Linked DNA regions of Homo sapiens. The protein of the gene in region 2 purifies or fractionates together with the protein of the main gene of each other region. This does not show direct contact. Each region holds a gene or a part of one and is shown on either strand. Other genes may lie near its edges.

The links.
Region 1: the proteins of ZNF490 (region 2) and PRDM15 purify together in Homo sapiens (affinity purification with mass spectrometry; 2 studies listed by BioGRID and IntAct, with this or other methods). This does not show direct contact.

The regions. Positions count from the first base shown.
Region 1 is NC_000021.9:41,873,537-41,884,972, reverse strand, and holds the start of PRDM15 (PR domain zinc finger protein 15), read left to right. Parts: upstream 1-5,628; 5' UTR 5,629-5,703; intron 5,704-5,832; exon of another isoform or gene 5,833-5,977; intron 5,978-6,112; exon of another isoform or gene 6,113-6,216; coding exon of another isoform or gene 6,217-6,278; intron 6,279-6,400; exon of another isoform or gene 6,401-6,422; intron 6,423-6,449; exon of another isoform or gene 6,450-7,436; coding exon of another isoform or gene 7,437-7,439; intron 7,440-7,790; exon of another isoform or gene 7,791-10,274; intron 10,275-11,436. UniProt on the Homo sapiens protein: Sequence-specific DNA-binding transcriptional regulator. Plays a role as a molecular node in a transcriptional network regulating embryonic development and cell fate decision.
Region 2 is NC_000019.10:12,577,845-12,589,266, forward strand, and holds part of ZNF490 (zinc finger protein 490), read right to left. Parts: intron 5,713-11,422; coding exon 5,586-5,712; intron 5,067-5,585; coding exon 5,006-5,066; intron 3,881-5,005; coding exon 2,641-3,880; 3' UTR 1-2,640. UniProt on the Homo sapiens protein: May be involved in transcriptional regulation.

The DNA.
Region 1 (11,436 bases), on a different chromosome or scaffold from region 2:
CAGGTACCTGGCTCAGCCACAGGTGGAACAGCGTCGGCACTTGCCTGGGGCTCACGGTGGTTCTGGGAGGGAGGCGGTCGAGTCGGGTCACAGACGTGTCCTGCGGGCCCCATGCAGGCATCGTGCCTTCTTTCTAGTCATCAGTTCCCGTGGTCTCCCTCAGTCTTCATTCCCCCTGCGGTGCCCAGACAGCAGAGCACGTGGAGAGCTGGTGTCCTGGAGAAAGCTACTGGACAGGCCCAGCCTCCTGTCCCCACACTGCCCACCCCTCCTCTCAGCTGTCCCGCCCGCTCGCTAGACACCGTGTAGACCCTTAGAGGGAGCCCGATGCTTCCCAGCTGGGTTCCAGGTTTTCTGCTCCATTTCCTGGGCACCACAAGGTGGTGATGGCAGTGCCTCTTGTTTGGAGTTAGAAGTGGTTCAGGACCCAGTGATTGAACTGTTGCTTCCTCTGTGTGGCCAGAGGGACCCACTTTGTGCTGATGCTCCAGGAGGAGGCTGGATTGAGTTGCTGGAGGCCAAGCTTGTCCTAATTTACCAACTTTCCTAAGCTGATCACCTCCAGATGAGCACTGTTTGCCAATGCGTCTCCACTGCCCAAATTAATCCAACTCAACCACCCTCGGTCATTCTGGAGTGTGCATCCTCGTGCCCAGCAGTTCACACTCACTCTTCGAATGGTCTAACCCAACTCAAGCCCTGCCTTCCCCACGAAGGAGCTTCTCTGCAGGCTGCGGAATTGGCGTGCTTGCAGCGGCACGGTCCAGGCCTCCGGCTCTCAGGCTTCACTGTCCTGCATTGCTCTCATTTCCTGTATCCCCCGGGGCTTCGTACAGTCACTGCCCACCTAGCAGAGCAAGGACAAAGGTCAGCTGATGACCCTTACGTGAGCACAGACAGCAGCTTTGCTTCCACCCACCTCACCCTCCATCGCCCAGGACCTGGTGCTGGGGACTGAGCAGGACACTGGAGGGGATGACCACATGCTGTTTTGACCTTAGCACCCCTACAAAGACAGGGTGATGTGTGTATATGTCAATAAAGTTTATTTTTAAAATGCAGATCACTCACCAAAGGGGGCTAGACACCAGGATGGCTGACATAGCACAGTGATCCCCCTAGAGAGAAAGCTGCCAAGGCCAGGCCCTCCTTCCCAATCATGACCTAGAAACAGCTTTCCTCCACTGGCCTTCCCCAGCTCCACACTGTGACTGTCCACAGTGGAAACTGCGAGTCACGCCCTGCTGTAACAGGCATTCAAAACTAGTTGCCTATGTATTTATAGGTCTATATTAATGTCATCGATATTTATAAAGTTGGACGTGCAGGTACGTTGGGCACCTTAATAGAAGGGTTATCAGCTGGTGATCATCATTGCTGTACCAGGTGAAGCACTGGACTAAGCCCAGGGGATGTATTAATTTATAGTCTAGCTCGGTAGCAAGCATAGCTTTTATATAATAGGCCGGGCGCGGTGGCTCACGCCTGTAATTCCAGCACTTTGGGAGGCCAAGGCGGGCGGAACACCTGAGGTCAGGAGTTCAAGACCAGTCTGGCCAACACGGTGAAACCCTGTCTCTACCAAAAATACAAAAATTAGCTGGGCCTGGTGGCGCATGCCTGTAATCCCAGCTACTTGGGAGGCTGAGGCAGGAGAATCGCTTGAACCTGGGAGGCGGAGGTTGCAGTGAGCTGAGATCACACACTCCAGCCTGGACAACAGAGTGAGACTCCATCTCAATAAAATAAATAAAGTTAGAGAAAGACTTGAGATCACAACAATAGCTAATAATAATTGCACACTCAATATGTGCCAAGAATTTTTCAAATAGTTTTATATGTAGTGACTCATATACTCTCTGAAACAACTCCATGGGGCATGATCTATTTCAGCTTTACAGGTTAAGAAACTGAGGCACAGAGAGGTTAAGTAACTTGCCCAAGCTGACAGCTGGCTAGACCAGAATTTGAGCACTGGCTGTTTGCCTGGAGAACCTCTGCTCACAGCCGTGAGTCTCTGGCTCTGCCTGTGTCGATTGGAGAGATTAAGGACTATGGTCCTATATGTTTTTTTGTTTTGTTTTGTTTTGAGAAGGAGTCTCGCTCTCGTCATCCAGGCTGGAGTGTAATGGCGTGATCTCGACTCACTGCAACCTCCGCCTCCCAGGTTCAAGTGATTCTCCTGCCTCAGCCTCCCGAGTAGCTGGGATTACAGGCACCCGCCACCATGCCCGGCTAATTTTTGTATTTTTAGTAGAGATGGGGTTTCACCACATTGGCCAGGCTGGTCTCAAACTCCTGACCTCAAATGATCCACCAGCCTTGGCCTCTCAAAGTGCTGGAATTACAGGCGTGAGCCACCGCACCTGGCCAAAAATTTTTAACAATTTTATATGTAAAAAAACTGGTGTAGCGGTGTCAGGCATATGATACATTTCATTTGTTGAGTTAAACAAATGTTTAAAAACCACCAAAGACTAGCATGAGGAAAAGGCTGGTCTCCTTCCCTGGAACCAGGATAAATCACTGAGGAAGTCAGAGGCAGGGCCAAGACTAAAATTCAAGTCACACAACAGCACTCCATGGAAAATCTACATACTCCTATGATAAAGTTCTACTAGACAGTCCAGATACATCATCCCCTAATTTGTGGGTATGTAAGCAAATGTGAAGCATGTCTCTAACCTGGTCATTCACTGTGCTATAAGGCCCACTGCCAGTGAATAAGTTCAGCAGTTACTCTTCAAGGATATATGGTCTTTTTTGAACTTTAATGCTGCCTGTTTTGGGTGAGAATAACATGAAGTGAGAGTCAATGTTTCATATTTAGTAGGAATTAACTTATTCGCTGATGATCAGACTTCCCTCTTTATGAGAAAAATTAGCCAATTTTTTTTTTCTTAAAAGCTGGAGGTGGCTGGAGAGGTGGTTGAGGATGTCTATCATGCTTTGCACAGCAGTAGGTTTGTATTTGAATTATAACAAAACCAGAGCCCAGGAGACGTGCTAATTGGAAAAGTACTGATCTAAGGCGGGCGGGCGGGCGGTCCACAGGGCTGCGGGCATAGCCCTCAGTGATTAATTACATCTTAATCCCATCTAGTATCTTTCAGGAAGAATTAAGTGTTCACAAGGAAATTCACTGATAGCCATGGAAGCTCTTGTCTGTTGTTTTTTAAATTTTCAACTCATTTATTTTTAATTTCAAACCTACGGAACAACCCATATAGCCTTCACCTAGATTCACCAGTTTTGCCACATCTGCTCTCTCTCGGTCTCTGTCACGTTTGCAGATATCACAATATTTCACCCTAAATCCTTCAGAACAATTTGGTGAGAACAATGAATGGCACGGGCTACCATACTTTCAATACAATGATCACCCTTGGGAAATTTAACATTGATCCAATACTATTATCCGGTATCACTGTTCACGTTCAGATTTTCCATTTTCCTCAATAACAACCTTTATAGTTGTTTTTTCTTTCTTTCTGCCCATTTTTCAAAGTTGTATATTGCATTAATTGTTAATAATGAAAATTTGACACTTTAAGATAAAACTTTTTTTTTTCTTTTAACATTTTGGAGATGAATCTGCCTTAAGAGGTATTATTTCTAGATTGTTCTGAAGGATTATAGTGGACACATTGACAATCCTCTTGAAGACGAGATATGACGATTATTGTGTAAGTGAATTCCAGCCGTGGGCTGTATGTAGTAATAGGAGAAATGGCCTGGGGGAGGTTGAAGTCTTTGGTTTACTTTCAGTTATTCGCACTTGCTGTGGACCTGTCACTTTTTTAGTGTAAACAACCTTTTATTCACATATGCCGAGGACTGTTTCATGTCCTGAGGCCCACAGAACCAGTCATCTGGCCATTTTGGAACTGTGAGTGATGTCACTGGAGGTGCGTGTATAGAGGGAATGTCCATTAGCTGTAGTGGTGGTGGTGGGAGTGGGGTTGGGCGGAGACCTGAATACAGAGAAGGTTGTGGAAAACCTGGGAAGTGTTTGAAGATAGAGTACAGAAGGCCTTGGGAACAGGCTTCAGGGACAGGAGGCTGGAGGGAGGCATGAAGTCGCAGGTGGGGACAAGCAGGGAGACAGTGGACGCCGGGGATGCTCCAGAAAGGTCTGGGGGGCCATGGGATGGCCTACTATAGTGCAACATGGAAGCCACTGTAGAATGCTGGGCCAGGCAGAGAAACCAGCCTTCACAGATCAACACTTGCCTAATCTGTCTCCGGCTGCCCGGCGTTGCAGCCTATGGATGTGCCCAGGTGCATCCAACACTTCCCATGGGATGGCACGTAGTATGTAAGCAAATGTGATGATCACATATGCCATTCATACAAGCGAGTCCGTCTCTGGCACCATTCCTGCATGTGGGTCAAAGGCTATGTGCATTTAGAATTTTTATGGATATCCACAAATATCTGAATGGAAACTACGCTAATTTATTCTCCTACCCGTAAAGGAGCTTGTTTCTCTAGTTTCTTCAAAATTATGCTATTAAAACTTTTTTTTGTTTGTTTTTGTTTGAGACAGGGTCTCACTCTGTTGCCCAGGCTGGAGTGCAGTGACACGATCACAGCTCACTGCAGCCTCAAACTGTGGGACTCAAGTGACCCTCCTGCCTCAGCCTCCTGAGTAGCTGAGACTACGGGCACGTGCCACCGAGCCCAGCTAAGTTTTTTAGAGACAAGGTCTGGCTATGTTGCCCAGGTTGTATTAAACGTTTTAAAAAATCTTTGCTAATCTAATAAAAATGATCCCACTGCGACTTTTTTTCTCTTATTGCAGCGTAGTTGAATAGCTTCTCATATGCTTAAGAACCATTGAATTTCCTACGAACTGTCCATCCACACACTTTGCTCATTTTTCTATATACATATATATTTTTATTGGTTCACAAGAGTTTCACGTACATGAGGGAAACGAGCCCTTTTGTGGCATCAATTTAAAATCATTTTCCCCGGTTCATCACTTCTCTTTATGAATGTAGGTTTTTGCCAGGCAGCAATGAACAAGACAGTCGGCCTCTCTGAATATGGGCGGCCAGGACTAAGGTGAAAAGTCTGTCCCTTCTCCGTCTCACGTTTTGTGATGGCACACACACTTGGTGGAGGGGGTCAAGAGAGGCCACACAGGCCCCCGGGGAAGAATGGAGAGCCAGGTCCGCGGCTGGCCCGGTGCTCACCGGTAGCGTGGCGGAGCCCGCCAGGCCAGACTCCCCTCGCGGGCACAGAGCTCGTGTCCCAGGGCCCCGCCGGCCAAATCCAGAGGTCACCGTGAGTGGGGGCAAGTCCCAGGCCTGTTCTAGAGAAAAACTCGACCCACCCACCGCCACCACTCCCCAACTCCGCAAGAAACGCGTCCGAGGAGAGGTGGAGAGGGAGCTGCCCGCGCGCGTGGGCGGCAGGGCCGTGCCACGTGGGAGGGGGGCCGCGCGCGGAATTCCCTCCGGCCAGACCCGCCCCGCGCGCGCCCGCTGCCCCGTCCACGCCGCCCGCGCCCCGCAGTCCCACCCGCAGGACCCCCGGCCGCGCCAGGGTCTCGCCTGCGCCCCCCGCGCCCGCCCGCGGACTACAAGTCCCGCCATGCCCCGCCGCCGCCCCCCGGCTTCCGGTGCTGCGCAGTTTCCGGAGCGGATCGCAACCCGGAGTCCGGATCCGATCCCGCTCTGCACATTCCAAAGGCAGGTAAAGCTCCGGGCCCTGCGCCCGCCGCCCGCCCCGGCGTGCGCCCCGCCGGCCCCGGGCCGCACCCGCTGCCCCCGCGAGCCCCGGCGCGCCCTGGGCCCGCTGCCCCCCGCCCCCCGCGCCCGGCAGCCGCGCGCCGCCCCGGTCCAGCCGCCATGCCGACTGTTCTTTGTTACATTCGCCGGCTGCGGGCACCGTTGGCGATCGGAGTCAAAACCCGGCTGGATTTCCCGGAGCCGCTCCGGGATCGCCCTGCGCGCCGCCCGCCCGCCGGGTCCCGCCGCCGCGGGCGCTCCTGGCCGGGCTCCGCGCCCCCGTCCCCTGCCTCGCGCCCCCCGCCCGCCCGCGGCCAGGCCCAGCGCGGGGCCGCGGGGCTGCCGGGCCGCGCTCGCCCGTGGGCGCGGCGCAGGGTCTTCGCCGCCCCGGCCCGCGGCCCCGCGGCCCCCGCCGCCGGGCGGCGTCGTCGCCGAGGCCCCAGGGGATGTCGTTATCCCCCGCCCTCGGGTACAGCCCATGCGGGTCGCACGGGGGGGTCCCTGGACCCCCAACCCCGCGTTTAGAGAAGCTGAGTCCTGGTGATGGGGTCTCCCAGACCCCCTGCGCCTTATTTTCGTAAGCCTTTTGGTGGCAGAGAGAAGGTAGCGAGGTGGATGGACAGGTGACGCGTGCCTACCCGGGGTGGGTGGCCGTTCGGGGACGGGGCGTGCCCGGCCGCTCAGGTGAGGCCCGCCTCGCGTGGACAGGTGGGGACGGGGGCCACGCGCAGCGTCCTGCTAGAGGGGAGGTGTTCACGCAGGGGTTAGCCTTGAGAAAATAGAAATGAAAACTCATGGAAATAAACACTCCTATCTGGTGGTTAGAGTTATCACCCATTTACCTTTCTTAACCCCCTAATGTAGTGGATGGTTTTTTCCCCCACAAATGCTCAGAAATTGCCCCTCACCCCCAAGTCCCCAAAGGGAGTTTAAAACGGTAGAAACAAGTGTGTGATCAGAGACACGTGGACCTGTGTGTGTATTTAAAGCTACCAACACTCGTTTTAAAAAAACCACATTGGCTTAAGCCAGACTCAAGTGAATTTGGAGAACCTAGCTTGGTTCCTGAAGGGTGGTGACATGTGAAGGAGCCACTGGCTTTGTGATGTACCTTAAAAGGTAGCAGTGACAGTTCTCCTTGGAGAATGCAATGATGTCAACACTCGATAAGGGTGGTGATCCCACCCCGGTGCACACACCACTACCGTATTTTGTTTCAAGCTCGGACATTTTCACGTGTTCCACGTTTTCACTGCTTCACTCCTTCCCCAGATTTCCTGACATCGCTGCCTCACGGTGAACGATTAAGAAATAGTAGCTCTATAATTTAGACTTTCAAGAGCAAAAACACCATTTTTTTTATAGTTTGTTTTTCTTCTATCTGTGATTCATACTTTTTGCCGCAAAGTAGCCAGCAAAGAACAAGCTAAATGTTCCATTTTGGAAGCAGGCGGGACGGTTATTTCTCCAGAAGACAAATAAATAAATTTAAAAATCAACTGTAGTTGGAAGGCTGCTAGCTTGTCTTAGAATAATTATATTTGACAAAGAACTCTTTTCACTTAGGATGTGGCTCTCATATCATTTTCGATGTCATTATCTGTACAGAAGGCCAGGAAAGAACAGTCCTGCCATTTTGCAGATTGAAGGGAGATTTAAGGCAACTGTGTCTTCCACCCGTGCGCTCAAGAGGTTGGGATGGTGAGCGGTGACTTAAATGATTTTTCAGACTCCGTTCCTCATTTGCAAAGTGTGGATGGCCCTGCTCAGCTCCCCTCACAGTGCTGGTGTGGGCAGATATTCATTCATTCGGCCATTCATGCATTCTTTCCACCAATGTTTACTGAACACCTGTTATGTGCCCCCACGCTGTAGTGAATGGAGAGAGGGCTGCACCTGGTGGACCTAATGTTCTGGGCAGGGGAGTGGAGGTGGTGTAGACAGAAAATCATAAAACTCTCAGGTAAGACGATGGGAAGAGCATGAAGAAAGGAAGGAGGGCAGGCAGGTGGCGGGCAGGGGATGGGGCACTTGGGGGCTGGGACTAGAAGGGGCTGTCTGAGGAGGGGCCACAGTGGAGACCAGTGCTGTGAGGGAGCCTCTGGTGGAGGTGGGTGCGGTGGTGCCTGCCCCCACCAGGCAGATGGTGGCAAATGCAAAGGCCCTGGGGTGGGATGAGCCCAGGATGGGACAGGCCAGTGTGGCCATGGAGGTGGGGCAGCAGGGGCCATGCACCAGGCAGAGATTTTCTTCTGACTGCCTTGTGGATGCCACTGAGGGGCTTTGAGCAGTGGCGGGGCAGAGTCTGCATCTTTTGGCTGTGTGTGGGGAATGGAGCTGGCATCACTGGAATCCAGGCCCTGCATGATTCCACTCCACAGAACTCGGAGGCAGAAGGGGAGATGGGGCAGGACAGAGCCTAGTTCCAGAGCCAGGCAGGCCTGCTGCTGGTTTGGTTGGAAATGCATGGTGGGTGACTGGAGCTACTATTTACTGAGGTGCAGGTGACCTGAGGCATTCAGGGGCCCTGTAGAGCAGACATCTTCAAACTCTCCCTCAGAGTGGGAGAAGACCCTGCCCCGGGGCCACGTCCGCTCCTCAAAAGGCTCCTCCTAAGGAAAGGTCCCTCCTCTTGCAGTCATGGCCCTGGGGTGTGGAAACTGCGGGGTCCCAGCAGATGTAAGGGTGTTGGGGAGTGGCTCCCCCGTGGGCCACAGGTCTGCAGCAGCTGCGGGAGCCTCTACACCAGCGGTGTTCATGGTGATCGTTGATGACAAGTTGATCTTTGATGAATTCAGGCTCAGAACTCAAGAGGATGTGGCATTGGGGGACTCTGCTGTGACCAAGCCCCTTCTGCTCCCGTCTCCTTATTTCTGGAACCAGCTTCTCTGTGCTCGCATTTCTAGAAAGAGGAATAGGGACAGAGGCGAGCATTTGTCCATGCTATGTGAACTGATTAGGGGAAAAAAGCTCTTTCTCTTCTATTAAACACAGCTTTTATATCAGATGATGATTTATCGAAGTGGAGACTATTTCTGTTTTGATCAGTGGTGTTCCAATTGTAGTCACACTGTGAAAAGGAGATATGGTTCAATGGTGGACCGCATATACCATGCTGGTCCTGTAAGATGATAGGACCGCATTTTTTACGTTACCTTTTCTATGTTTAGATAAGCAAATACTTACTATTGTGTTACAGGTACCTACAGTATTCCGTTAGTTAAGTGCTGTACAGGTTTGCAGCCTAGGAGTCGTAGGCTGGGCCGTATAGCCTAGGTGTGTAGTAGGCTATACCATCTAGGGTTGTGTATGTACACTCTATCATGTTTGCACAACTACAAAATCCCATAGCAATGCATTTCTCAGAATCCTGTCAGGAAGCTACACACGAGTGTACTGCGGTGATGATTCGGGAGACGTTAGCACAGCCCTATGGTTGTAGGAAATCAAGACGAATTCAATTTATATGCATGTTTGTGTTGCAAAAAGTTACAGTAGGGTGAATCAATAGAGTGATTTCAAGCATGAATATATAACGTTGGGTTTACATTTTGTAGTAACAGAAATAGGAGTTCCTAGAGGAAGAAGTGTATACTTTCTGGCCTTAAGAAGAGCTTGTTCGTGTGCGTTGTAAATAGATGGCCATGGCTGTCACGTCACCGTGCCTAGATTCTAATAGATATATTTACAAGAGTGACATGGCAGTTTTATTTTAACTCAGTATTTACAGTATGCTGGAAATGATGTCCCTTGCAGCTGTTTAAAACAGGGATGAACAGTTTATACTGTCAGCTGAGATGCAGGGAGTGGCATTTTAGGAAATATTTTCATGGGGATACTGGCAAAACTCAAAGAGCCTGGCTGCTCCTGGTTCCAGGCATCAGGTGGAGCTGCCGTCCGGGGCCTGGCAGGGCGAGGGGCCGCCAGGATGCCGGCTTGGGAGTTGGGGGTGGCAGGTAAGTGCTGCATGTAGAGGGACGGAGGTCTAGGTAGCCAGCTTGGGGTACCCCCTGTGGAGGCTCTGGAGGGGAGGTGCAGACAGCAAAGGGGCTTAGGAGGGAGCACGCAGTGAGAGGGACCCTCCAGGGCAGAAGGGATTTCCAGAGGAGGCAGTAAGGATGGCTTCGGGTGGAGAGGACCTGGGATTGGGCAGGGACCCTGCTGAAGCCACTCGTCCTACATGAATCCTACTCAGAGCAGGAGAAGCCAAGATCAGCGATCCTCCCGTCTTGGCCCCCCAAAGTGCTGGGATGACAGGTGTCAGCCTGTCCTGGAGTCCTCCAAGCCCGTGGGGTCTGATGAGCACAGACGGCTCAGCTCTTCCTTGCTTCCATACCCTTACATAAAACTGGAGCTCGGCTTTCTCAGAGAGGATGCTTTTATTTGCCTGAGATGCACCATCTGTTACTGGCTCCGTTTGACCGATCTCCTTGTTCATCGTGGTCCAGGTCTGCACCTGACAGCTCTGAGTGCTGACCTACTGCAGGCGTCATCAGTAAACCTTGACTAAGTGATGCGGCTCACGGCAAACTCACTGTGAGTTCAGGGTCCTTAATTCTTGATGTGGGTGGGGCCTGCAGGATGCAAATGCGGTTGGACTTTTAACTGTCCACTCACTGGACCAGAGTCTGCTTTTGAGAAGGGGTGTTTCAGGTGTCTCGTAACCCTCTGGCCTCTGGCCTTTTGTAAGTTTCAAAAAAAAAAAAAAATATATATATATATATATATATATGCATGCTGCTTAGTTATAGTAGGTTTGTCTTTTATTGTGACCAAAAACATAAATGTTATTTTAGCACCACGTTAGGCAAGAGGTCAACAGGGTCCTTGTTCTGAGCAGGCCGCCTCAACTCTGACTGTTAGCTGGTCCTGTCATCTGGATGCCTCTTGTCTCCCTGGGTCCCTATCCCCCAGCACATCTGACCTGCAGGCTTTGCTCTCTGCCTATTCTCATTCTGTCTGCTTTTTGAAATACGCTAAACCAGCACTCACAGCCTCTCCACCATCCAAGCCCTCTAGGGTCGCACAAGCCTCATCGTTAAGTAGGAGTCAGTCCTCCCGCCCTTTTTTTTTTAAATTAAGCAAACACAGGACAGCCAGTTAGAGCAGCCATCAGTGTGGTAGAGTCTACACTACCTCAGTTTGCTTTTTTTTTTTTTTTTTTCCCGAGACAGAGTCTTGCTTCGTCACCTAGGCTGGAGGGCAGTGGTGCGATCTCCATCTCGTCTCACTGCAACCTCGGCTCACTGCAGCCTCTACCTCCTGGGTTCAAGCAATCTTCCCACCTCAGCCTCCCGAGTAGCTATGACTACAGGCATGTGCCACCATGCCTGGCTAACTTTTGTGTTTTCTGTAGAGATGGGGTTTCTCCGTGTTACTCAAGGTGGTCTCAAAATTCCTGGGCTTCAGCAATCCTCCCACCTTGGCCCCCCAAAGTGCTGGGATGACAGGTATAAGCCACCGTGCCCAGCAGAGTTTCCATTTTTAAGATGGTAGAGGGCACACCTTTCTCTCCCTCTTAAAGAACCAGATGTGAAAATGAGAAATATAGATGTCATCTTTGATGAAACTAAGAGGTTCAGAAAGTGAGAACGGAGAAGAAATCATAAACAGTACAAGAAAACAGTAGGGCTGAAGGGCATGGTTGAAGGCCCAGTCAGTGCACAGCATCAAAGCAGGTCACAGAATTTCAGGTCAC
Region 2 (11,422 bases):
CCACCTCCCTTCTAAAACACACTGACTTGCTAAGAAAAGGGGGGACTGACTCCAACAAAGGACAGACCCGACCCCTATCGTGCCTATGCAATTCAGAAAACGGAGAATTCGGAGGCTCCAGCAAGCAGTTTATTGGGAGTTGAGTTCACCTTGCCTTGTGATGTGAAGCAAGGTAGTTCCATGGCTTGTGAACCCTGACACCAGCACCTCCCATACACAACAGAGCTGGAGCGCTGCAGGGTGGGTCCTTTTCCAAGAAGAGCTAAGTGCTAGTCTTAGCGGGAGGCTAGGAAACCAGTCCTGGAGCAGGATGCATGTGACATGCACTGACGTGAGAAGGCCGGAGCATCATCAGTGCATATGCCGCTGAATATCTCAGGGTAGAATGTGCCAGAAAACAGGGAAAGCAAGTTAGGGGAGGTAAGAATTCTGAGTGTCCTACAGCTAAGACATGGCAGAGTGTGTCTGTGACTCCACTAGCAGTTTTGAGATTATTCTGACTGTGGTGGTTGGTGCAGGGCTGGTAACCGCAGGAGAGTGGATGCTGTGTGGTCAAGGGGTGTGTGTCCCATGATACAGGCTCTGCTTCTTCAGTCTCTCACCTCAGAGCCACCTGCGGTTGCCACAGAGAAATTCAGATGTGAATGTTTAAACAAGTGTCCAAAGTGTAGGTTTGAGATGGGAAATGGAGCTGGAGATGACCTCAAAACAGCCCTGGAATAATGCAATGCTGACAATGTCTGTGAATTAGGATGTGCATAGGCAGATCCCACTTGGGGAAAAACTGTAAGATGCGAACCTTTGTCTTAGAAGTACAGCATTCCCACAGTCTGACCCGAGGACACTGATGGAAACTTAAAAGGCAGATTCTGGGAGTCTTCTCACTTCTCTCCAGTCATGTGTGAGAGCTGAGGGCAGGCACTGCCCTAGAGGGTGTTTCCTAACTTCTGACTGGATGCCACAAAAGGCCTGCTGGGGCCCAAGTCCTTCTTCCCCATTCCTTTAATTCTTCCTACGAAGAATCTCGACAATGGTTGCAGATGTCATTGAAGATGTTCCCATATTGCTTACATTTAAGAAGGTGGCTCTCCAGTGTGGGTGGTTTCATGGTTTTAAAATGAACTGGAGGCCGGGCGCGGTGGCTCACGCCTATAATCCCAGCACTTTGGGAGGCCGAGGAGGGCGGATCACGAGGTCAGGAGATCAAGACTATCCTGGCTAACACGGTGAAACCCCGTCTCCACTAAAAATACAAAAAATGAGCCGGGCGTGGTGGCGGGCGCCTGTAGTCCCAGCTACTCGGGAGGCTGAGGCAGGAGAATGGCGTGAACCCAGGAGGCGGAGCTTGCAGTGAGCTGAGATCGCGCCACTGCACTCCAGCCTGGGCAAGGACTCCGTCTCAAAAAAAAAAAAAAAGAACTGGGGGCCGGGTGTGGTGGCTCACGCCTGTAATCCCAGCACTTTGGGAGGCCAAGGCAGGTGGATTACCTGAGGTCAGGAGTTCAAGACCAGCCTGGCCAACATGGTGAAACCCCGTCTCTACTAAAAATATAAAAATTAGTTGGGCGTGGTGGCATGTGCCTGTAATGCCAGCTACTAGGGGGCCTGAGGCAGGATTGCTTTGACCTGGGAGGCAGAGGTTGCGCCACTTTCACTCCAGCCTAGGCAACAGAGTAAGACTCCAGCTCAAAAAAAAAAAAAAAAAAAAGTAAAACGAACAATTTGGGAGGCCAAGGTGGGTGGATCATTTGAGGTCAAGAGTTTAAGATCAGCCTGGTCAACATGGTGAAACACTGTCTCTACTAAAAATATAAAAATTAGCTGGGCATGGTGGTGGGCACTTGTAATCCCAGCTACTTGGAAGGCTGAGGCAGAAGAATTGCTTGAACCCAGAGGTTACAGTGAGCCAGGATCACACCACTGCACTCCAGCCTGGGGCAACAGAGTGAGACACCATCTTGGGGTGCGGCGGGGAAAAAAAGGTTGGGTGCTGTGGCTCACACCTGTAATCCCAGCACTTTGGGAGGCCGAGGCAGGCAGATCACCTGAGGTCAGGAGTTTGAGACCAGCCTGACCAACATGGAGAAACCCCATCTCTACTAAAATTACAAAATTAGCCAGGCGTGGTGGCGCATGCCTGTAATCCCAGCTTCTTGGGAGGCTGCGGCAGGAGAATTGCTTGAATCCGGGAGGCGGAGGTTGCGGTGAGCCGCGATCGCACCACTGCACTCCAGCCTGGGCAACAAGAGCAAAATTACATCTCAACAAAAACAAAAACAAAAAACAAACCCCACAAAAGATGGGATGGATATAGAATTTTCTTTATAGTTTCTCTCCAGTATATATTCTCAGGTGTCTTTAAAAGATTACGTGAAGTGAAGGCTTTCCTACACTCCATACATTCGTAGCTTTTCTGTCCATGGAGTCCATTCACATATCTGCAATCCCGCAGGAGAGTGCAAGTTCCTCCCCCATTTGTTAAATATTTCATTGCCGCATGAGTCACGTCTTCAAAGGGAATTAGGACAACTGAAGGCTTAATCACACCGTTTACATTCCTTGAATTTCTCTCCAGCGTAAGTACTCTCATACATCCAAAAGGAACTAATACAACTGACAGCATTACCACACTTTACTTTCTTAGGGCTTCTGTCTACTATGAGTCCTTTCGTGCACGTGCAAAGACTTTGAGTAACTGAAGGCTTTACCACATTGTCTACACTGAAAGGGTCTTTCTCCAGTATGAATTCTTTTGTGTACTTTCAGGGAATTTAAACAAGTGAAAGCTTTGCCACACTGCTTACACTCACATGGTTTCACTCCAGTGTGACTTCTTTCGTGCCTTCGAAGGTGACTGAAGTAAATGAAGACCCGACCACACTGTTTGCATTCATAGGGTTTCTCTCTAGTATGGGTTCTTTCATGGATTCGAAAGTGAGTGGAATAAAGAAAGGCTTTACCACATTCTTTACATTCGTAAGTTTTCTCGCCAGTGTGAACTCTTTCGTGCAACTGAAGGTAACTTGAAGAATTGAAGGCTTTACCACATTGTTTACATTCATAGGGTTTTTCTCCAAAATGAGTTCTTTCGTGCACTTCACAGGAACTAGATGACTTGAAGGCTTCCCCACATTTCTTACATGTATAAGGTTGAACTCCGGTGTGGGTTTTCACGTGTTTTCGAAGGCTTGAGTGAGAAAAGAAGGCTCTCCCACATTCCCTACATACAAAAGGTTTCTCTCCAGTATGAGTTTTCTCATGACTCCGTAAGTACGTGGGACAACTGAAGGCTTTCCCACATTGCTTACATTCATAAGGTTTCTCTCCAGTGTGAGTCCTTTCGTGGGTTAGAAAAGGCTGGTAATATATAAAGGCTTTTCCACACTGTTTACATTTGTAGGGTTTCTCTCCAGTGTGATTTTTTTCATGGCGCCGAAGAGCAGTGAGATATCTGAATGCCTTCCCACATTCCTTACATTCATAGGGTGTCTCTCCAGTATGAATTCTTATATGGTTTCGAAAGGAAAAGAGAAATGCGAAGGCTTTGCCACATTCCTTACATTCATAGGGTTTCTCTCCAGTGTGAATTCTTTCATGGGTTCGAATACTGGAGCTGCGAGTGAAGGTTTTCCCACATTCTTTGCATTTATGTGGCTTCTCTCCATATTCGTGACACTCATTTGGTTTCTGTTCAGTGTGAGATCTCATGTGCCTATTAAGGGAGACCTGATGCATGAAGACTTCCCCACACACACTGCAGTCACATGGTTTTAATCCAGTAGGAGTTTCCAGGTTCGTATTAAGATCAGGAATCTGGCTAGTGCTTTTTCCACATGGACAATCTTCTTTATTTTCACAGAGTGCTTCAACCATAGGACTTCTGTAAAGAATGAGTACCGTATTATTAATAGTTTTGTATTAATGATCTTATATTTATTAGCAAGTACCAGAATTACATTTTAAATATTTTCACAGAAACTGTATGTTATCTGCCCTGTCTAAATTGTTTTGAAAGCTAATATACTCAATAGTCTAGAACAGGCCGTGACCATAGCTATTATCAAAATAGTTAAAAAAAAATTATTATTATTATTTTTGAGACGGAGTCTCTCTGTTGCCCAGGCTGGAGTGCAGTGGCGTGATCTCAGCTCACTGCAACCTCCGCCTCCTGGGTTCAAGTGATTCTCCTGCCTCAGCCTCCCAAGTAGCTGGGATTGCAGACATGCACCACCACGCCCCGCTAATTTTATATCTTTTTTAGTAGAGACGGGGTCTCAAACTCCTGACCTCAGGTGATCCGCTCGCCTCAGCCTCCCAAAGTGCTGGGATTACAGGCGTGAGCCACTGCGCCCAGCCAGGATTTTTAAATGCTGTTTCATAGTGATTTCTTCTCACACCCTGAACATCTATTGCTTTTTTTTTTTTCCTGTAGAGACAGGTTTTCACTATGTTGACCAGGCTGGTGTTGAACTCCTGGCCTCAAGCAATTCTCCAGCCTTCACCTACCAAAGGCTGGGATTAGAGGTATTCGCTACCTTACCCAGCCAATGACAGTTTCTGTTGTTTTTTTAGACGGAGTCTCGCTCTGTCACCAGGCTGCAGTGCAGTGGATCGATCTCAGCTCACTGCAACCTCCACCTCCCAGGTTCAAGCGATTCTCCTGCCTCAGCCTCCCGAGTAGCTGGGACTATAGGTGCACGCCACCACGCCCGGCTAATTTTTTGTATTTTTAGTAGAGACAGGGTTTCATCATGTTGGCCAGGATGGTCTCGATCTCCTGATCTCATGATCCACTGGCCTCAGCCTCCCAAAGTGCTGGGATTACAGACATGAGCCACCACGCCTGGCTGCCCATGACAGTTTCAATGAAACACCTTCAGTAAAAATTTTCTAAGAATGAATAAACCTGAAACTCTGCTTATTGTTTTGCTTGCTTGGCTTTTGAAATTTATGAAATACTAAGATTCTCTCAGGGGCTATATAATTATTTGTGAATGCAACTCACCTTAGATTTCTTCCCTGGTTTTTGTGTTCATCTTCAATATCCTGGTCTTTCCATTTTTCCCCTAAAATACAAGCCCAGAGAACTCACAATAAATTATTAGAAATTATAGAAAATTATAACACTCTAAGATCCATGATTAGCTATTGATTAGCTATGACACTGTCTGATCTACTTACTAAAGTATTCTCTTCCCACATTTTTTTTTTTTTTTTGAGACAGAGTCTCGCTGTTGCCCAGGCTGGAGTGCAATGGCGCGGTCTCAGCTCACTGCAACCTCGGCCTCCCGGGTTCAAGCAATTCTCCTGCCTCAGCCTCCTGAGTAGCCAGAATTACAGGCACCTGCCACCAGGCCTGGCTAATTTTTTATTTTTAGTAGAGACAGGGTTTCACCATGTTGGTCAGGCTGGTCTCAGACTCCTGACCTCTTAATCCGCCCGCCTCAGCCTCCCAAAGCACTGGGATTACAGGCGCGAGCCACCGTGCCTGGCCCCTTCCCCCATTTTAAACCTTGGAACTCAGTTGTTGTGCAAGAAACACCTGTTCCCTCCTTAATTAAGTAGAGAAATTATGTCACCCTTACCTATACAGGCCAGGTTCTTGAAGGTTGCCCGCATCACATCTCTGTAGATATTCCTCTGGCCAGGATCCAGCAAAGCCCACTCCTCCAGGGTGAAGTTCACAGCCACATCCTCAAGGGAGATGGAGTCCTAAAACATCCCCCATGTGTGTTTAGGAGGAGGAGAGAGATTCGCAGTAGTGAGGATCCATTCTCAGAATTCCTGAGAAATTCCATATAATCCTGTAGTCTCGGTTTAGTGGTATAACTTGGTTGTCAGAACTCTTGACTCTTTCCATACTCACTTCCTCATAAATTTAACACTATCGTGAACATACAAAAATTATTGCGCTCTCTCTCTCTCTCTCTCTCTCTCTCTCTCTCTCTATATATATATATATATATATTTTTTTTTTTTTTTTTTTGAAACATTCTTGCTCTGTCGCCCAGGCTGGAGTGCAGTGGCACAATGTCGGCTCACTGAAAGCTCCGCCTCCTGGGTTCACACCATTCTCCTGTCTCAGCCTCCCGAGTAGCTGGGACTACAGGCGCCCACCACCACACCCAGCTAATTTTTTGTATTTTTAGTAGAGACAGAGTTTCACCGTGTTAGCCAAGATGGTTTCCATCTCCTGACCTCGTGATCCGCCCGCCTCGGCCTCCCAGAGTGCTGGGATTACAGGCGTGAGCCACCGCACCCTGCCATTATTTCTATATTTTAACTGTGATCACTTGAAGCCTTATTGTTCTTTTTCTTTTTATTTTTTTTGAGATGGAGTCTTGCTCTGTTGCTCAGGCTGGAGTGCAATGGTGCGATCTTGGCTCACTGCAACCTCCTCCTCCCAGGTTCCAGTGATTATCCTGCCCCAACCTCCCAAGTAGCTGGGACTACAGGCGCGTGCCACCACGCCCAGCTAATTTTTTGTATTTTTAGTAGAGACGGGGTTTCACCATGTTAGCCAGGATGGTCTTGATCTCCTGACCTCGTGAATCGCCCCCCTCGGCCTCCCAAAGTGCTGGGATTACAGGCGTGAGCCACCGCGCCCGGCCACCTTATTGCTCTTTAAATACAGACCCAAGACCATCTTGGATATATGAGAGAAATGCTGTACAAATGAAACAAATTGTAAGATCATCAATTCCTCGTGAGAAAAACTCTTTCATTTTCTACCTTATTACATACTGTACCACTCAGCATTTCATGAAACTTGGGGTCAAATCTGGATGAGATTTTAATAAATGAATACACCCTTTAGACTATAAGCTGCACATCTCCCATTGAGGATGAAAAACTGTGTATTTTTCTTTTTCATAAACAACATGAGAGATCAGGAAGTCTGTGAAAAGCCAGAAGTCACTGGCCATGTTGCCCTGAAGGATCTCGGGCCATTAGAACCATGCAAATCCAGGTGGCTGAATGAAAATATTCTTCTGCATTAGTATTAATTTCAACGTGTTTGTGTAATATTTATCATAGGTTCAGTTTTTCCTTTCTGTCTCATTTCATGGGTCTAGGAGGTTATTGGAAAGAAAGCACAGCAACTTGGACCTCTATAAACCCCTGTACTCATGAAGGTTTATTACTCGCATGCTTGAGCTCTCAGGCAAAGCTGTGTAACTCTCAAGCACTTGTGAAGTGGCTTCGGAGAGCAAGAAAAGGAGCCTGGCTGGGGATTTTTACTGACATTAGGGAGTGGGCTAGTGTGAGTTCAAGCATACAGGTGGAGGCTGATGCGAATTGGCTCTGTCGCCAGCACCAAATGAGGGTGACCCAGGCTTTCTTCCTACCACGTCCATATGTGGGGTACACAGTGGAAACTGAGGAATGAGGTTTTAAAGCTGTGAGCAGTCAAAAGCCAGGCGGGGTGGCTCACGCCTATAATCCCAGCACTTTGGGAGGCAGAGGTGGGCAGATCATTTGAGGTCAGGAGTCCAAGCACTAAACCTCCAGCCCTTTTTCTCTCCCCCGACTTTGGGGGCTAGGGCTAGAGGAAGATCAAGACTGGGTGTCTTTCGGGACATCAATCCCCACCCTGAAGTTAGGTAGGCATTCTTTCCAGTAGTCATTTATTTACAACAAGAGAGGGTCCATTACCCTTATCACTCATGAAATTCCAAGAGATTTAGGAACTCTGTACTAGGAACCACACACAAAGACCAAACAAATGTCTTTCTTATCATAGCAAAGAACATCATGGCTCGGGGCACAGGCTCACCAGAAGACAGATGATTCATAGGATTATATCATGTTTCCACTCCAGCCACTGGTAACAGTGTGACATTAGAGTTTTGTTTTTATTTTGAGACCCAGTCTCGCTCTGTCACCCAGGCTGGAGTGCAGTGGTGCAATCTTGGCTCACTACAACCCCTGCCTCCAGCATTCAAGCAGTTCTCCTGCCTCAGCCAACAGAGTAGCTGGGATTACAGGCATACACAACCACACCCAGCTAATTTTTGTATTTTTAGTAGAGACAGGGTGTTTCTTCATGTTGGCCAGGATGGTGTCGAACTCCTACCTCAAGTAATTTGCCTGCCTTGGCCTCCCAAAATGCTAGGATTACAGGAATGAGTCACCACTCCTGGCCTGGGTTTTTGTTTTAAAACAGTAGAACAGGCCAGGTGTGGTGGCTCACGACTGTAATCCCAGCACTTTGGGAGGCGGGGGGCGGGCAGATCACTTGACATCAGGAGTTTGAGACCAGCCTGGCCAACATAGCAAAACCCCATCTCTACTAAAAATACAAAAATTTGCCGGGTGTGGTGGGCACCTGTAATCCCGGCTACTTGGGAGGCTGAGGGAAGAGAATCGCTTAAACCTGGGAGGCAGAGGTTGCAGTGAGCCAAGATCGTGCCCCTGCACTCCAGCCTGGGCGACAGAGCGAAACTCCACCTCAAAAAATAAAATAAAATAAAATAAAATAAAACAGTAGAATACAATGAAACAATATTCTATTTCTTTCTGCATGTTTCACAATTGAAGAAATCTCTAGAGAACCCCAAAAATGACAGAACACAGAAAACCAGGGACACCAAAGGCAATTTTATCTGACACCTACAGTTACTGAAAATAGTAAACACAGCCTAAAATCAACAGGATAAACCTAAACCCTCACATTTAAAGCCTGTTTACCTCAGTTCCTTTTCAACACCATGCCCAGATCTCAACAAAAATTACAAGATATATTAAAAGACTTAGACGGTTTGAAGAGAGAGTGCAGGCATCAGAACCAGACTGAGATATAAAAGAGATGCTGGAATTATCAGACCAGAAATTTATTTCTTTTCTTTTTTTTTTGAGACAGAGTCTTACTCTGTTGCCTAGGCTGGATTGCAGTGACACAATCTCAGCTCACTGATACTGTCATAGTGGATAAAAAAGAACACCTGGCCAGGCGTGGCTCACGCCTGTAATCCCAGAACTTTGGGAGGCCGAGGCAGGAGGACCTCTTGAGGTCAGGAGTTCAAGACCAGCCTGACCAACATGGAGAAACCCTGTCTCTACTAAAAATACAAAATTAGTCAGGTGCAGCGGCACATGCCTGTAATCCCAGCTACTCACGAGGCAGGAGAATCACTTGAACTTGGGAGGCAGAGGTTGCAGTGAGGCGAGATCGCGCCATGGCTCTCCAGCCTGGGCAACAGGAATAAAACTCCATCTCAAAAAAAAAAAAAGAAAAAGAAAAAAGAATACCTAATATATGTTGTCTGCAAGAAATTCGCTTTTTTTTTTTTTTTTACTTTGTTTTTTAGAGACAGGGCCATGCTCTGTCACCCAGGCTGGAGTGCAGTTGTGGGATGACAGATGACTATAACCTCAAACTCCTGGGCTCAAAGGACTCTCACCTCAGCCTCTGAGTAGCTGGAACTACAGGTGTGCACTACCATCCCTTGATAATTTTGTTTCTTTTTATAGAGATGGGGTCTCACTATGTTGCCCAGGCTTGTCTCAAACTCCTGGCCTCAAGCAATCATCCTGCCTCAGCCTCCCAAAATGCTGGGATTACAGGTGCGAGCCACCATACCTAGGCCAACAAATCCACTTTAAATATATCACAAAGATTGGGGGGAGGGGGGAGGGATAGCATTAGGAGATATACCTAATGTAAATGACCAGTTAATGGGTACAGCACACCAACATGGCACATGTACACATATGTAACAAACCTGCACGTTGTGCACATGTACCCTAGAACTTAAAGTATAATAATAAAAAGTAATAATAAATAAATATATCACAAAGATATATTAAAAATAAAGGAATAGAGAAAGATATACTATGCTAACACTAATTATTATTATTATTATTTTGAGACAAAGTCTCACTCTGCCACCCAGGCTGGAGTGCAGTGGCGCAATCTTGGCTCACTGCAACCTCCACCTCCCGGGTTCAAGCGATTCTCCTGCCTCAGTCTCCTGAGTAGCTGGGATTACAGGCGCACACTACCACACCCAGCTAATATTTTTTGTTTGTTTGTTTGTTTGAGTCGAAGTTTCGCTCTTGTTGCCCAGGCTGGAGTGCGATGGCGCAATCTCGGCTCGCTACAACCTCCGCCTCCCAGGTTCAAGCGATTCTTCTGCCTCAGCCTCCTGAGTAGCTGGAATTGCAGGCACCTGCCACCACGCCTGGCTAATTTTTGTATTTTTAGTAGAGACAGGGTTTCACCATGTTGGCCAGGCTGGTCTCAAACTCCTGACCTCAGGCGATCCGCCTGCCTCCCAAAGTGCTGAGATTACAAGCGTGAGACACCATGCCTGGTCAATTTTTATATTTTTAGTAGAGATAGGGTTTCACCACGTTGGTTAGGCTGGTGGCAAACTCCCGACCTCGTGATGTGCCCGCCTTGGCCTCCCTAAGTGCTGGGATTACAAGCATGAACCACCATGCCCGGCCAACACTAATTTTTTAAAAGCTGGCACAGCCTTATTAATTTCAGAAAAAGCTGACTTCATAGCATGAAATTATCAGTGATAGAAGGGCATTACATACTGACAAAGGGGTTAATTCACCAAGAAGACAAGGCAATCCTTACTGTGTATGTACATAACCACAGAGTGGCAAAATATATGAGGGGAAAACTAATACAACTGCAGGAAGAAATACATGAATTCACTGGTACAGCTGTATATTTCAATAACCCCCAGCATTAATTTAGAGATCCAGCAGGCAGAAATCAGGAAGGACATAATTAAATTGAACAGCACCATCAAAACAACTGGACTTAATTGAAATCCAGAATAATTCATTCAGTAACAGCAGAATATACATTCTTCTCAAGTTCACATGGAATATTCACCAAGATATCTCACATTCTGGTAAATAAAATACTTCCTAGCAAATTTAAAAGACTAGAGAATACAAAACATGTTCTCAGATCCAGAATTGATAACAGAAAGATAGCTTGAAAACCCACAAATATTTGGATATTAAATCCTGAACTTCTAAATAATGCATGGATGAGAAAAGTCTCAAGATATTAAAAATTATTTTGAATTAAATAAAAATAGAACTTATCAAAACACGTAGAATGCAGCAAAAGGAGTGCCTGGCTGAAATGTAGACGATTGAACACATATACCACCAAAGAATGATCTGTAATCAATAATCTCAGTGTCTAACTTAAAAAACTAATAACAGGCCAGGTATGGTGGCTCACGCCTGTAATCCCAGCGCTTTGGGAGGCTGAGTCAGGCAGATCACCTGAGGTCAGGACTTCGAGACCAGCCTGGCCAACATGGTGAAACCCCATCTCTACAAATACAAAATTACAAAAATACTCTCTCATGTACTCTAAAATACAAAAATTAGCCAGGCATGGTGGCACAGGCCTATAATCCCAGCTACTTGGGAGGCTGAGGCAGGA